2 linked regions of the Homo sapiens genome follow. The protein of the gene in region 1 purifies or fractionates together with the protein of each later gene. This does not show direct contact. Each region holds a gene or a part of one and is shown in the gene's direction. Other genes may lie near its edges.

Evidence for each region. The genes of interacting proteins can lie anywhere in the genome.
Region 2: the proteins of EVA1C (region 1) and SPTLC2 purify together in Homo sapiens (affinity purification with mass spectrometry; 4 studies listed by BioGRID and IntAct, with this or other methods). This does not show direct contact.

What each region holds. Positions count from the first base shown.
Region 1 is NC_000021.9:32,408,032-32,415,738, forward strand, and holds the start of EVA1C (protein eva-1 homolog C isoform 1 precursor), read left to right. Parts: upstream 1-4,674; 5' UTR 4,675-4,822; coding exon 4,823-4,982; intron 4,983-7,707. UniProt on the Homo sapiens protein: Binds heparin.
Region 2 is NC_000014.9:77,606,634-77,613,668, reverse strand, and holds part of SPTLC2 (serine palmitoyltransferase 2), read left to right. Parts: intron 1-7,035. UniProt on the Homo sapiens protein: Component of the serine palmitoyltransferase multisubunit enzyme (SPT) that catalyzes the initial and rate-limiting step in sphingolipid biosynthesis by condensing L-serine and activated acyl-CoA (most commonly palmitoyl-CoA) to form long-chain bases.

The sequences.
Region 1 (7,707 bases):
TTCTAGTGCACTGTGGCTTTTGCAGTTCTGACCAAGCAGGCTCCTTGCTATTGATGCGGCTCTGTGGTGCCAGCTCTAGAAACAAACTACCATTTGTTGCTTTCTAAAAAAAAGCCTTTTAAGCTCCAGACGACATTGGGCCTCTCTCTCCTGAGCTGAAAGGTTGGTTTCTTTGAGGTTTCCAAATGGCAGCTTATGTCTTCTCAGAAGGGCTACAGCCCATTTGTTGGAAGCCAAAAACCTTACCTCAATGGCCCAGGTGAGAGGACATGGCTCAGGGTTGCAGTCTGAGTGTGAAGCACATAAACATCTCCCATAATAGGCTTGGTGGCTGGGCCTGGTGGCTCAAGCCTGTAATCACGGCACTATGGGAGGCCGAGGTGGGTGGATCACCTGAGGTCAGGAGTTCAAGACCGGCCCAGCCAACAAGGTGAAACCCTGTCGCTACTAAAAATACAAAAGAAAAAGAAGAAGAAGAAAAAAAATTTGCTGGGTGTGGTGGTGCACACCTGTCATCCCAGCTACTTGGGAGGCTAAGTCAGGAGAATCACTTGAACCCAGGAGGCGGAGATATCAGTGAGCCAAGATCGTGCCACTGCACTCCAGCTTGGGCAACAGAGCAAGACTCCACCTAAAGAAAAAATAAATAGGCTTGGATATGGCAGAGGGTGAGAGACAAGTAGCTAGGATCTCAAGGAAGAAGGAAAATAGAGATGTAACATGGAGCTGAAAAGAAGGTGCAGGAATTGCTTTAAAAGAAAACAAAGAGACAGAAAGTAAGACGTGTAATTTACAATGTCCTGTAAAGGTTGCCTCTTGCACACATGGACTGAATGCTGTGACTACAGAGGCACTTTTCAAACTAGTACAAGAAGGAACAAGATTGCCCAATGGTGCCATCACTTAGAAAAGAACCCTTTATTTTACCTCCACCTAATTGCTGTGCCTTTGCAGTATAAGAGGGCTTCAAGTCTTGGTTCGGACGGTCAGTATGACTCTGTGCCCTCAGTCTCCCCATCTGAGAAATGAAGATTCCTGTTGTACCTGGGCCAGCTTCATATGACCTGAGCAATCACTCAGGGCCCTGTGTTCAAAGCATTAAACTATGCTTGGTTTAATGCTCTGCTATTATCATCCTGGAATTCTTAATAATCCTTGAACGAGGGGCCCCACATTTTCGTTTTGCACTGGGCAAGTAAATGACGTAGTTAGCCTAGTTAGTACCTATCTCAAAGGGTTGTTGTGAGTATTAATATTTTGGAAACACTTTATTATTTGGCACACCAGTCATCATTCACTTTAATTCCAGCTCCCATAACTGTGTTGAAATACCAAGTGGCTATGACTGTTTTTATTATTCAAATTCCATCATAGTAGAAAGCATTTAAGGAAAACTGCCTCGGTGGAAAAGATTATTTCTCTCCAGACCCCAGATTGATTTTACACTGTTCATCCCTCTTTGAAACATATATTCCTTTTCCCACTTTTCCGTCCTATGAGTTGTTATAGTGCCTCAGAGTTAAGGTATTTGACCTACAAAGCTCTTAGAAAAGTGTGGGGTCCAGAGAGAAAGATAACTGAGCAATTCAGTTTTCTCGCAAGATTCCAAAATTCTTAAAGAGATCAGATTAGGACCAAAATCTTCTGATTTAACAGTGAGGGGCTAAGGGACAAAACAGAGGGAAGCCAGGGAGACGTCCTTCAGACCCTCTCATAGCCCACGACTGCCCGGTCGCATTGTGCTGTCCATCTGCCTTCTAAACATCCTTCCATTGTGGCCGCTTCTCCTCTTCTTTCTGGGTGTACAGCGAGCACATCAGCCCAAGCACAGCCATAAACCCCTGACTGCACTCTCTCCCTCACCACGGCCATCTCCCCAGACCCACTTTTCTTTTTTGAGACGGAGTCTCGCTCTGTCTTGCCCAGGCTGGAGTGCAGTGGTGCAACCTTGGCTCACTGCAGCCTCTGCCTCCCGGGTTCAAGCAATACTCCTGCCTCAGCCTCCCGAGTAGGTGGGACTACAAGCGTGTGCCGCCATACCTGGCTAATATTGTATTTTTAGTAGAGATGGGGTTTCACCGTGTGGGTCAGGCTGGTCTTGAACTCCTGACCTCAGGTGATCCACCCACCTCGGCCTCCCAAAGTGCTGGGATTACAGGCACCAGCCACTGCAGCCGGCCACATGCCATATATTGTTTATCCATTCATCCACTGAGGTTCTTCCATCTGTCAGCTCTTCTAAATAATGCTGCAAGGAATATTGGTGCATAAGTATCTGTTTGAGTCTGTCTCTGCTTTTAGTTATTTGGCACACATACTTCCAGGGCCTGCTTTTGACTCCTCCAGTCCATTTGCACTCAGCAGCCGAGAAGGACTTTTTACCAACACACATCCAATCACATCACTTTTGTACTTACAGTTCTTTGCTGGCTTAAGATAAAAGACGGAAATTCTCACCAAAGTCTCCAGGGCCCTGAGCTCTGGCCTGCCTACCTCCAAGTCCCCTGGCTCTTCCCTTTGCTCTGCTCCAGCTGTCTAGACTTTTCCCCATCCTTCAAGACAGCCATGCTCCTTTTGGATTTCAACATGCTGGTCCCTTTTTCTAAAATGTTCATCCTCCCGCAACACCCGGGTTTTGCTAGTTTTTGCTTGGCCAATTCATCCTCTAGCTTTCTCATCCATCTTGCCTTAAAATGCTCCTGAATATCTCCCTTCCTCCCTCGGGCTCAGCTCCTTCATTCCTCGCTTCTGCTCCCATGGTTCCTGTCTTTCGTGACTGTCCGTTCACGGGGCATTATTTTCCAATGTCTGTCTTCCCTGCTGTAATAGTAACTGTATGCATTCATCCACTGGAGTTGCTTCCATCTTTTGGCCATCATAAATAATGCTGCAATGAATATTGGTGTGTAAGTATGTTTGAGTTTCTGCTTTACCAGGTAAGAAAGCCTGGGGATGCTGTCACAGTGAGTAACAGTGCCCACTTAGACATTTGGAAGCCAGTGCAGACCCACAGGGCAGTGCTGCCCACTCCCAGGACTCGGGAGCATGGCTGCCTCCCTGTGCCAACACTGTCAGTCACTAGCGCAGAACCTGGCACACGTTGGTACCAATTCATATCTAAACTGGATGAATGAACAGACAGAATGGAAAGTACAGGAGGGACCCGAGTTTTGGACAAACATTACTTACCCTGTGGCTCCTAAGTGCTGGGCATCCTTACCCACACTCCCAGCTTCAGTTTCCCTAACCTAGAGAGCGCACACTAATATTTATGTTCAAATGTTATTGGGGAGGTTGAGTTTTTATTTAATATTTGAATGTAGATTTTAAAAATCATTATGCCAGACAGGCTGGGCCTCACTCGATAAACACTGATGTTTAGCATTTAACACACTTTTCCCCAGACTGGAAGAAGAGGCCGAGATCCCAATTCGGTGACCCAGCCCTTGCTGGAGTACTAGGTGGTATCTAATGCCATCCACCCTTCCGGGATCTTTACGGCCCACCTCTGAGTGGGTCCCACGGGGACCCTCAGCCGCATTTTCTTTCTGCAGGCCTCCCTGCACACTCTGGGGCGTTCGCAGCTCTGGAGCCCGCGGGGCAGTGCGTCCGGCCCCGCCCTGGGCCTCATTATCTACGTTTCCGCGTCACGCCCGCCGCGAACTTGGCAGGCCCTCCCGCCGGGTTCGGGAACACTGTGTGCCTAGCGCCCGCCCTCCTCCCTTCCGCCGGCCCCGCGCGATCCATAGGGTTTGGGTCGCTGGGCGCCAGGTACCCGCACCCGGCAAGCAGCCACGGAGCCCCTCGCGCACTTGTCCTCGATACCCTTGAGTTGGGGCTACGCAGGCCACTCCTAGGCCACTGGCTGGGCGTCCGAACGTGGGTCACCCCGCGCACAGTCTAGAGGTTCAGAAAGATGCTGTGGCCCACTTTAAAACAAAGCCCAATTATTAGCGCTCGGCGGCTGTTTGCGCCGGTGCAGTGTCAGATCCCCCAGCGCTGCGGACAACCAGCACCCAAAGGAAGCCGAGCTGGAGCTAAAGATCCCGGCTCCGGAGCCATCTGACCGGTTTTGAGACCTCCAGCTCGTCGCCGTCCTGGCTGCGAGAGCTTGGGCACGGCGCCGGGGCTCAGTCTCCTCTTCTGTGGAATGGCGATAACTGTATGTGCCGGGTGACTGCACGTGGCGCGCGGCGGGTGGCGGGGATGGCAGCGGTGCGATCCCACGCCTCCAGGACCCCACCTTCCTGCGGCCCCCGATCGGCCCCGCCCCGGGGGCGCCCCAGCTGCACGCGCGGCGCTGGCTCCAAAGTGCGTCACGGGCACCGGCCGCGCTCCTTCTGCCGCCAGGGCGAGGCTGGCACCCGGCCAGCGCGGGCAGGGCCACGGGTGCCCGGCTGTTTCCCGGGTGTGGAAGGCGCTCAAGGTGCGCGGCCCGGGGCGCGCTACTGGGGGCGCCCTCCGCGGTGGGCAGCGCGCCAGGGATCGGCCTGGGCAGCCGCGGGGCGCGCGAAGGCTGCGCTTTCCCTACGGCCCCCCTCGCTTCCTCCGGCACGGCGGCAACGGAGATTTCCTCTCGGGGAAACTACGCGGATCCTTTTCGGGGATCCTCGCCCCGCCCCAGTTCTCCGCCCCCTCCCCTTTGCTGGGGCGCCTGGGCTGGCCCGCGCAGGGGAGGAGGCTCTGGCAGCCTGGGCAGGGAGGCGGCGGGGGGCCGCGGAGCCGCTGGCCATCGATTCTCCCCGCCATGTGACGCCGTCCTTAGCCCTGCGACCCCCAGCGCGTCCCGGGCCTGCGCCTCCGCCCCGCCGCGCAGCGCACGATGCTTCTGCCGGGACGCGCACGCCAACCGCCGACGCCCCAGCCCGTGCAGCATCCCGGCCTCCGCCGGCAGGTAGAGCCGCCGGGGCAGCTCCTGCGCCTCTTCTACTGCACTGTCCTGGTCTGCTCCAAAGAGATCTCAGCGCTCACCGACTTCTCTGGTAAGAGCGCCCTCCCTGGCTGTGTGCCCCCGGCACCGCGGAGCGCCCAGGTGAACCCTCGACTGGGGGCAGCCGCACCAGTGGACACGGCGGGGTAGGATTAAAGTTGAGGCGTGCTCACAGACACTTGTCTGGTGTGAGCCCTTGGCATATAGATGGCTGCGAGTGAAGTGGCGACGGGGGACTGCCACTCCCAAGAAGGAAGGGTGTGTAATGTATTCAGAGTTTCTCGCCCTGCTGTTGACCTCGTCAATTTCCTAGCATTAGGGACCTGGTCCTGAGCCACGCTCGTTCTATGGAGGCTCCTTAAACTGAGCCCTGTGCCGCGCCCAGCGCTGTAAAATACACGTGTTGTGGTCGGAGGCGTTGCGCCGCGTTTGTCACCCGCGTAGCCCGTTTGCCCATGTAAGGAGACTAGCCCAGGGGACACTTGACCTCGAGTCCACATTGGCAGGTAGAAAGGGAAGCCCGCGGGGACTGGAGGTCTGGTGGAAAGGCAGTGAGGGATGAGGAGATACTTAGATAAGAGAGAGGAGCCTCTCTGCCAAAGTGTACCAGGGTCCTCCCTCTCCAATTCCAGTTTCCTTCACAGAAAATAATGACTTCCTACTCTCGAATAAACTAGGAGGCTTTTCTTTTTGGGAATCGTGATCCAGGCTCTCGCAGCGGATCTCAGATAGTTCTGAGCTTACAGGTGTGACGCCCCAAAGTGAAAGGGATTTCTAGGTTGACGATAGCCATAGGAGCACATGCTTAAGTTAGCGCTGCAGTTGCTTAAGGTAACACATGTCCTTGCCGCTGAAGCACACCTGGATCTCCCTCTGGCAAGGCTGGAGGCCTTCAGCCTTCCCCAGCCCAGCTTAGGGAGCAGCTCTGAGCCCCATACTCCTCCTTCTCCAGGGATCTTCTGCCAAGTTCAGGCTTTGCACAGTCGGTCCCTATCGGGTCCTCAGTGCAGAGTCTTTTGCAACATAATGGTGGTAAAGGGAGTCCTCCTCAGTCCTGTTTGTGCAGTAGGCTAGTACATAGCAAAGAACAAGGGCAAACCAGAAGTTGAGATGGGGTTCTAGTTTACTTACAGAGAATGTCATTGTTAGTGGAGAGCCCTTAGGTCAGAGGTTCTTTGCTTTGAATATGTAATATCAAGGCAGTATTCCTACCTAGCAAAGGAAGCCAAGATAAGGCCTATTTGGCAAGCCACCCACGGCCCTTAAAATCAAGCATCCCAGGATCAGAACTCTGTGGTAAGAGTTGTGGGGAAATGCATCAGACTTTTCAAGGGCTATTAACTTTTTTTTTTGTACTACTAGAACTTTCTTGGCTGCTAGAAAAGCTCTGTATTAGCTGATTTGAGCTATGGAAAGCAGTTCTGAGTTCAGCCACCATCTAGCTCTGAATTCTAAGGAAATAATTGAAAACTGACAAGCCTTTTTGTGTTTGTGACATCATTGCAACTGAACAAATATTGCTTTAGGCAAATTGCAGTGTAACCATTAGATTGTTTTCACAGATTATAGACACTTAGAGTTCTGTTGCTTTAGGGAAGCAGTTGCAATACTTGTAACAGTCTATAGATTACCACCCAAGTTTGGAATTGTCTGTATCTAGCAACTGTTACATACAGTGGAGTTGAGCTATCAACTCCTTAGTAAAATGAATGATTTGATACATGTTATTCTAAATAGTATAAATGATAAAAGGCATTTTCTTCTGCTTTCCATACGAACCTAAATTCCAGGGTTTCAAACTCCCTGAGCCAGCAGTAGGTGGTGATATTGCCACCCACAACGAGCCCCCATTTTTCCTCTCATCAGTGATGCTCTCCAGAGATCTGAAGATTAGGCAGAACATGTCAGAAGCCTTTTGGGGAGAAGAAAGGAAATATAATGTCCTCCCAAACCACTGATGCACTTAAATTTAAACCTTAATTCTATATCATGTGAGGTCAGGGAAATATTAGAAAAATCTCAGGGAGAAAGAAAGATCATCTTCCAAAGTTGGCTCATTTGACTTGGATTTTAGCCGCCCTCCCTCTGCAAATTCCTAAGCTCCAAAGATGACCATCTTATTGTTCGGTTCAGTGTTTCAGCTGACGCGAACCCCATGTGGCCTCAAAGCTTGCCGCCTGTGTTCCTGGGACAGTCGGTCCTGTTCCTTTTTATGAACTTGAAGGAGTGCATAGAAACCAAAACTGAGGCCTGGAAGGAGACAGTGGATCCTCCCCTGCAGAGCCTGATCACAATAACCAGGGCTAGAGAGCAGTGTTTGACAATGCAGATACTTGCCTGTTTTTCTAAATAAAGGGAACATCAAAAACTAGCAGAGGATAGAGGAAACTTGGGATCCCTCTGCCCTGTGAAGGAGGAGGGAGGATGGTGTATCCATGTGAAAGAAAGTGCCAGAATGTCAGGGGTCCCAGCCATTGTCTGTACAATATAGGCCCCTTTCTCCCCCCAGGAGATTAGCAGTGCAGAGTTTTGGAAAGTTCCTTAAGCCTTTCTCTTCTTTGCGGCTCTTCCTTGAGCCTTTTCCTGGGGCTGTCAGCTGGTGTCGTTTTCCTGGGTCATTGATTTTTTTTTGCCCTCAGGGATTCCAGCATCGATCTCACTCTTAATAAGCCAGAGGCAGCATCATGGCCCCCTCCTCCTCCCTGTCCATGCTCGTGACTTGTTCTAATCACCTCCAAGCTTGCTAGTAAACAGGCTCCCCAAACACCGCCTTCTCT
Region 2 (7,035 bases), on another chromosome or scaffold:
ACCATGTCTTTTAATGAACAGGAGAGAAGTCAGAAACGTCTAGGATCACTTTACACTCTCAAGAGTATGTTTCTGTGCTTGAAGAGATGAATGAATGTGTATAGTAAAAGAACAACTCTTGGATTTGGGTTTAGAATTTGATGAGCTAGATGCTGTGTTAAGGAGTTATGAAACAATCACACATTGCTGTTTAGTGATGACAGTAGACACACAGTTTTCACAATAGTAACAGTTGAACAATAGAGCAGTAATTTTTCCTCTCTGCTATTCAGATGAGTGGGAGGAGCACAAACCTTTATTTGAGGTAAGGTGTGGCAATTTGCCCGAGGGAAACTTTTACATTAGCATTGGAAAGAACCTTTGGGAGTTTATTTAATTCAGTCCTTTATCTCTTTGTAGGAGTTTATTAAAATCAGTCTTGATAGAAAATTCTGTACTGTTTTTAAAGATCTCCAGGGGATTTGCAGCAAGTTTTTCTCTATAGCAAATTGGATTATTATTCCATGATCTTAATTACCAAATTTCTTCCTGTGGATTTAACATTTGATGAAATAAATGCCATGTTTTGGTTGCACCTGAAATATAGTAGTTTGTTTGTGTGTTTGTTTTTAAAACTTCACGTTAACAGCTCTTTTTAAAAGAGCTTCCATTTCTTTATAGAAGTTTTGAGATTTAGGTTTTCCTTTTACTTTCCTGAGTTAGTTAATAAGTGTGAAAGAAAAAAAGTTATCTACCTTTGAGACAGTTTTGACCCTAACTTTTTTCCCTTTGGGTGTAGTTTTAATGAGATATTAGAAGGATGAGAGCTCTCTGGCTTACAGAATAAAAAATTCTATCTCAAGGAATTGGGGCAAAAGTTGTGTTCTTATGTTAAATAATAAGCAAAGTAGAAAGAACAAAGTGTTAGTCTTGCTTCTTAGGAGGAGGCAAATAAATAACTAATAAAGCTGGTTTACTAAATAGCTACTAGCTTTTGTTTCCACTGAGGGAGAAACAGTAACTGGGGGTTTATATGTGATAGTTAAGGAAAAGGAGACGATAGTTATGAGGCTAGAACAGTAGAAATAGTTAGAATAGTCATATATCTATTTAGATTTAGCAGATCCTGATAAGATACCTCAGATACCTGAAGGCTTTTCAGAAATAATGTAATTTACAACTTGGAGGACAAGATTTTCATTTCAGTTTTCACTCTAAGGGGAAGCATATCTTGATTCTTACATAGCTGCATCTGAAGAATTCCAGAGTTATTTGAGATACTCAGGAATTTTCTTTAACAGGAATTCTTGGGAAATGTGTAAGCAGCTATGTTCTTAAGATAGTATTTTAGAACTAGGATGTTCAGAAAAGTCAGACTTGCCCACTTTTTAGGGTTTGCCCATGTGCCATAGAAATTTGCACCGCTTTGAGCAAGACAGTTAATTGGTTGATTTAATTAGATTCAGTTTTTGGAAGAAAGAAGCAGTGTTTATTGGTAGAATAGGCAATTCAGAGGGATGGGTAGAGGCACTGTTTGCATTCTGAGTGGGTGTGCCATACTTGATTAAATAAATGGTTTGTGGACTCAAAGTCAGTTCCCTTCTGGGTAGTTTCTGAGAAGCTTCTGTAATATAATTCACAATTTGTGACCGATAAAAAAGTAAGTCCTTTGCTCTTGACCCATTTACTGTTAGAAAATTTATCTTAAGTTTGTCTTTAAGACTACTTTTTATTGCAAAGCTTGAGGCAGCTATTCTTCCTTTTTTAAAAAAATAATTTTTACTTCTCATTATAGAAATAATACATGTTTAATGTGGGATCATAAAACATTGAGATAATCTCTGCGTTAGGTTTTTTTTTTTTTGAGACGGAGTCTCACTCTGTCGCCCAGGCTGGAGTGCAGTGGCGCCATCTCAGTTCACTGCAGCCTCCACCTCCCGGGTTCAAGCGATTCTCCAGCCTCAGCCTCCTGAGTAGCTGGGATTACAGGCATGCGCCACCACGCCTGGCTGATTTTTGCATTTGTAGTAGAGACAAGGTTTCACAGTGTTGGCCAGGCTGGTCTCGAACTCCTGACCTCAGGTGATCCACCTGCCTCCGCCTCCCAAAGTGCTGGGATTACAGGCGTGAGCCACCACGCCTAGCCGGAGGTTTGTTTTTTAATGTGGTCTATTGTAAATCCATCTGCTACTTTCCGTTAATTTCTTTTCTTTCTTTTTTTTTTTTTTTTTGGCGAGATAGGGTCTCGCTCCAGCCTGGCCTGCAGTAGCACAGTCATAGCTTACTGCGGCCTCAACTTCTCGGGCTCAAGCGATCCTCCCATCTCAGCCTCCCAAGTAGCTGGGTCCACAGGTGTGCACCACTACAGTGGGCTAATTTTTTTTTTTGAGACAGAGTCTTGCTCTGTCACCCAGGCTGGAGTGCAGTGGCGCGATCTTGGCTCACTGCAAGCTCTACTTCCCAGGTTCACACCATTCTCCTGCCTCAGCCTCCCGAGTAGCTGGGACTACAGGTGCTCACCAACACACCCGGCTAATTTTTTTTTTTTTTTTGTATTTTTAGTAGAGACAGGGTTTCCCCATGTTAGCCAGGATGGTCTCGCTCTCCTGACCTTGTAATCCGCCTGCCTCAGTCTCCCAAAGTGCTGGAATTACAGGCTTGAGCCACCATGCCTGGCCTTTTTTTTTTTTTTTTTTTGTAGAGATGGGTCTTACTATGTTCCCCAGGCTAGTCTCTTTTTTACTTAAACAAACAAACAAAAATAAATAAAAATATATATATATAAAGAGAGAGGGAGACAGAGAGAGAGGGAGACAGAGTCTCACTATGTTGCCCAGGCTGATCTCAAACTGTTGGGTACAATCGATCCTCCTGCCTTGGCCTCCTGAAGTGCTGAGATTATAGGTGTGAGCCACCGCACCCAGCCACCCAGGCTGGTCTCAGACTCCTGACCACAAGCATCCTCCTGCTTCAGCCTACCAAAGTGCTGGGATTACAGCCACTGTAGCAGACTATTTTGTGATAATTTCTAAGTACAGTGAAATATGCGGTTGTACTGATACTATGGGTGTGATCCAGTCTTACTCCAAAAAATAGGTATTAAGGGCTGGGCACAGTGGCTCATACCTGTAATCCCAGCACTAAGGGAAGCCAAGGTGTAAGGATTGCTTGAGCCCAGGAGTTCAAGATCAGCCTGGGCAACGTGGCGAGACCCCATCTCTATTTAATTAAAAAATAATAAGGTATATGACCAGGTACCGTGGCTCACGCCTGTAATCCCAGCACTTTGGGAAGCCGAGATGGGCGGATCACTTGAGGTCAGGAGTTTGAGACCAGCCTGGCCAACATGGTGAAACCCCGTCTCTACTAAAAATGTAAAAATTAGCCGGGTGTGGTGGTGTGTGCCTATAATCCCAGCTACTCTGGGAGTCTGAGGTAGTAGAATCGCTTGAACCCAGGAGGTGGAAGTTGCAGTGAGCCAAGATGGTGCCACTGCACTTCAGCTTGGGCGACAGTGAGACTCTGTCTCAACAAAACAAAACAAAACAAAACCTCAGTTAGATACCATTTCACACCACTAGGATTGCTAAAATAATAAACCAGGTATTAAGTGTTCATGAGGATATAGAGAAATTAGAATCCTGATACATTGCTGGTGGGATTATAAAATGATGCAGCCACTTTAGGAAACAGTTAAACATAGAGTTAGCATGTGGCCCAGTAATTCTACTCCCAAGAAAAATGAAACATATGTTCCTGCAGAAACTTGTATATTAATTATAATAGCAGCATTGTTGATTGATTGATTGATTGATTCAGGGTGTTACTGTTACCCAGGCTGGCAGGACATGGCTCACCGCAGCCTCCACCTCCTGGGCTCAATCAATCCTCCCACCTCAGCCTCCCAAGTATCTGGGACTGCAGGCATATGCCACCATGAGTGGCAAAATTTTTTTTTTTTTGAGACAGAGTCTCACTCCGTTGCCCAGGCTGGGGTGCAGTGTGGCTCACTGCAACCTCCACCCCACTGGTTCAAGCAGTTCTCCTGCCTCCGCCTTCCGAGTAGCTGGGACTACAGGCACATGCCACCACGCCCAGCTAATTTTTTATATTTTTAGTAGAGATGGGGTTTCACCATGTTGGTCAGGCTGGTCTCAGACTCCTGACCTAAGTGATCCATCCGCTTCGGACTTCCAAAGTGCTGGAATTACAGGCGTGAACCACTGTGTCTAGCCCCACGTTATTTATAATAGCCAAAAAGTAGAAACAATCCAAATGTCTATCAACTGATGAGTAGATAAAATATGGTATATCCATATAAAAGGATATTATTCAGCAATACTACTGAAGGAATGCAGTACTAATACATGCAGGAGAATACTACATTGTTTATGGCCATGTGTTTATATAGTGAAAGTATTTAAAAATACAGGGGAATGATAAACACCAAATTCCCAATTCTTCTGAGGAGGAAAGGAAATATAGCATTTCCCCAGGACAGACTTCTTAAAAGGATTGGAGAACTACTTAAACATGTCAGATCTTGACACTGTCCTGATGGCCTCCTGTCACTAATAACAGAATACAAAATGGGGTTTACAAGGCCCACCATGAACTTTCCCATCCCTCTCTGACTTCATATCCTGCCAGGTCACTGCTTTCTAGCCAATCCGGGCTTTCTGATGTTCCCCAAACACATTGCCATCAAGCACCCCTCCCTGGGGCCTTATTATTATTATTATTATTATTATTATTATTATTATTATTATTTTGAGATGGAGCCTCAATCTGTCACCCAGGCTGGAGTGCAGTGATGTGATCTCGGCTCACTGCAACCTCCGCCTCCAAGTTCAAATGATTCTCCTGTCTCAGCCTCCCAAAGTGCTGGAATTACAGGCGTGACCTACCACGCCTGGGGTCCCTGGGGCTTTAGCCTTTACAGTTACCTCAGCCTGGAAAGCTTTTTCACAGAGTTCTCTTCCCTACTCCAAGTCCATCTGCTTACACCTTACCTCCACCCTGTTTAAAATGCTCTTTTTCCACGATTTTATTCTGATTGTAGCAGTGTGATCTGATACAGTATATCTATTTGCTTATCTGTTGTCTGCCTCTCTCACAGGAGTGTATTTCTAGTGCTCAGATCATGCCTAGCTCATAGCAGGGACTCAATAAGTATTGAATGAATAACTTTAATGTTTTATTTAATGGAAAAAAGATCTAAAGCATATAAGCTAAATCTTAAGTTTTGATAAAGCTAGATGTTGAATACAGTTTTATTTCTATTTTTTTGATGATAATTACTGTGTCATATTTCATACATACTCTGCTGGTTGACAAAAACTAGCTCCCTAAAATAATGTTACAGACATAAGTAAGAAATGGATTGTGGTGACACATAAGCTGTTAAAGAAACCCGTAGCCTAATTTATAGTGTATCAGGTTTGCAAGTGGTTTAAAACAATAGCGGTTTACTGAATGTTCTTACTAGCGTGAGGGGAGAGCTTGTGAGAAGTAGGAAGAGGCCAGAGAAGGTCCTGGGGTCTGGCACACTCTGATATGCTTCATCACCTCTCCCTAAGCTCTCCCTACAGGGCAGTGGGGCCAGTGGTGACTTTTGCGGCACCCTCTCCATTGTCTTACCAAGGGCTTCAGCTGTGAGACGCCGGTTGGTGCTACAAGGAAGGGGAAACGTGTCAGCTCTTTCCTCTGCTCTTTTCTCACATTGATTTCAAATGCCAAGAAGCTGGGCTGAGAAACCGGGCTTGTGATCCTGGTTGTACTGCAGTCCACCATGTGCTGGAGAGCTCTGCAGGTTGTGCTAAAGGGTAGTGTCTTTATTGCCTCCTGTATAAGCTTGACTTTTACATAGGCAAGCAGGTTATTTCCAGGACAACTAAATTAGTTGGTGCGAAACCTCATTTCCTAGAAACCCATTTTCTTAGTAGAGGAAACCCATATAACCATTTGTCTCCATGTAAGTGTAGCTAATAACATGAATAACAAAAATAGCTAATTATTTAAATAGCAAAAATAAGTATGGAAGATGAATTTGCAGTAAAATTCTAATATTAAGCCACTGATTATTTTAAAACAATCAGATTAAGTTGTAGTACCTCTGAAATAATTAAAGGAAAATTTGATTCTTAGAAAATCTCAATTCATTGGAAAGCCATGGAATTAATAAAATAAAAAAAGAAAATCTCAGGCAATATAAACTAAGGAATGGCAAATGGAAAATGTATTGATTGGTGGAAAAGTAATTGCGGTTTTTGACATTGAAAGTAATTACTTTTGCCATTACTTTTAATGGCGGAAACCATTTAATGGCAATTACTTTTGCACCAACCTATAAATAATTGGACTCTAGTTCCAACTTTGATATTTAGCTTTCCCATGACTGTTGACAAATTGCTTAATCTACTTTCCTTGATTTTGTCAGTCAAATGAGGAGGAAGAGACAGCTTGAGAAACATTTGTAAGAGAAATGCTTATTACTTTGTATGTGTTTTTCGTCTTACATATTAAATATAAATTCCTTTAGGTGATATTCTTTAAAATGATTTCCTTACTTCCTTTTATATTTACATCCATTTTCTCTTAAAAAAACAAACAAACAAAATACTGCACAATTCTTGAAGACAAGGATTACCTCTTACCTCTTATTTGTTTCATGAAATATAGAGTACAATTTTTTTTTTTTTTGAGATGGGTCTTGTTCTATCACCCAGGCTGGAGTGCAGTGGCGCCATCATGGCTCACTGCAGCTTCAACCTTCTGGGCTCAGGAGATCCTCCTATCTCAGCCTCCCCAGTAGCTGGGACTACATTCATGCACCACCACATCCGGCTAACTTTTGAAAATGTTGTGTAGAGATAGGGTTTCACTATGTTGTCCAGGCTGGTTTTAAACTCCTGGGTCCAAGCAATCCTCCCGCCTTGGCCTCCCAAAGTGTTGGGATTACAGGCGTGAGCTCCTGTGCCCAGCCTAGAGTACAGTTCTTGACATATAGATAGAAATTAAGTATTTGTAGAATGAGTGGAAAAAAAAATGAAATGA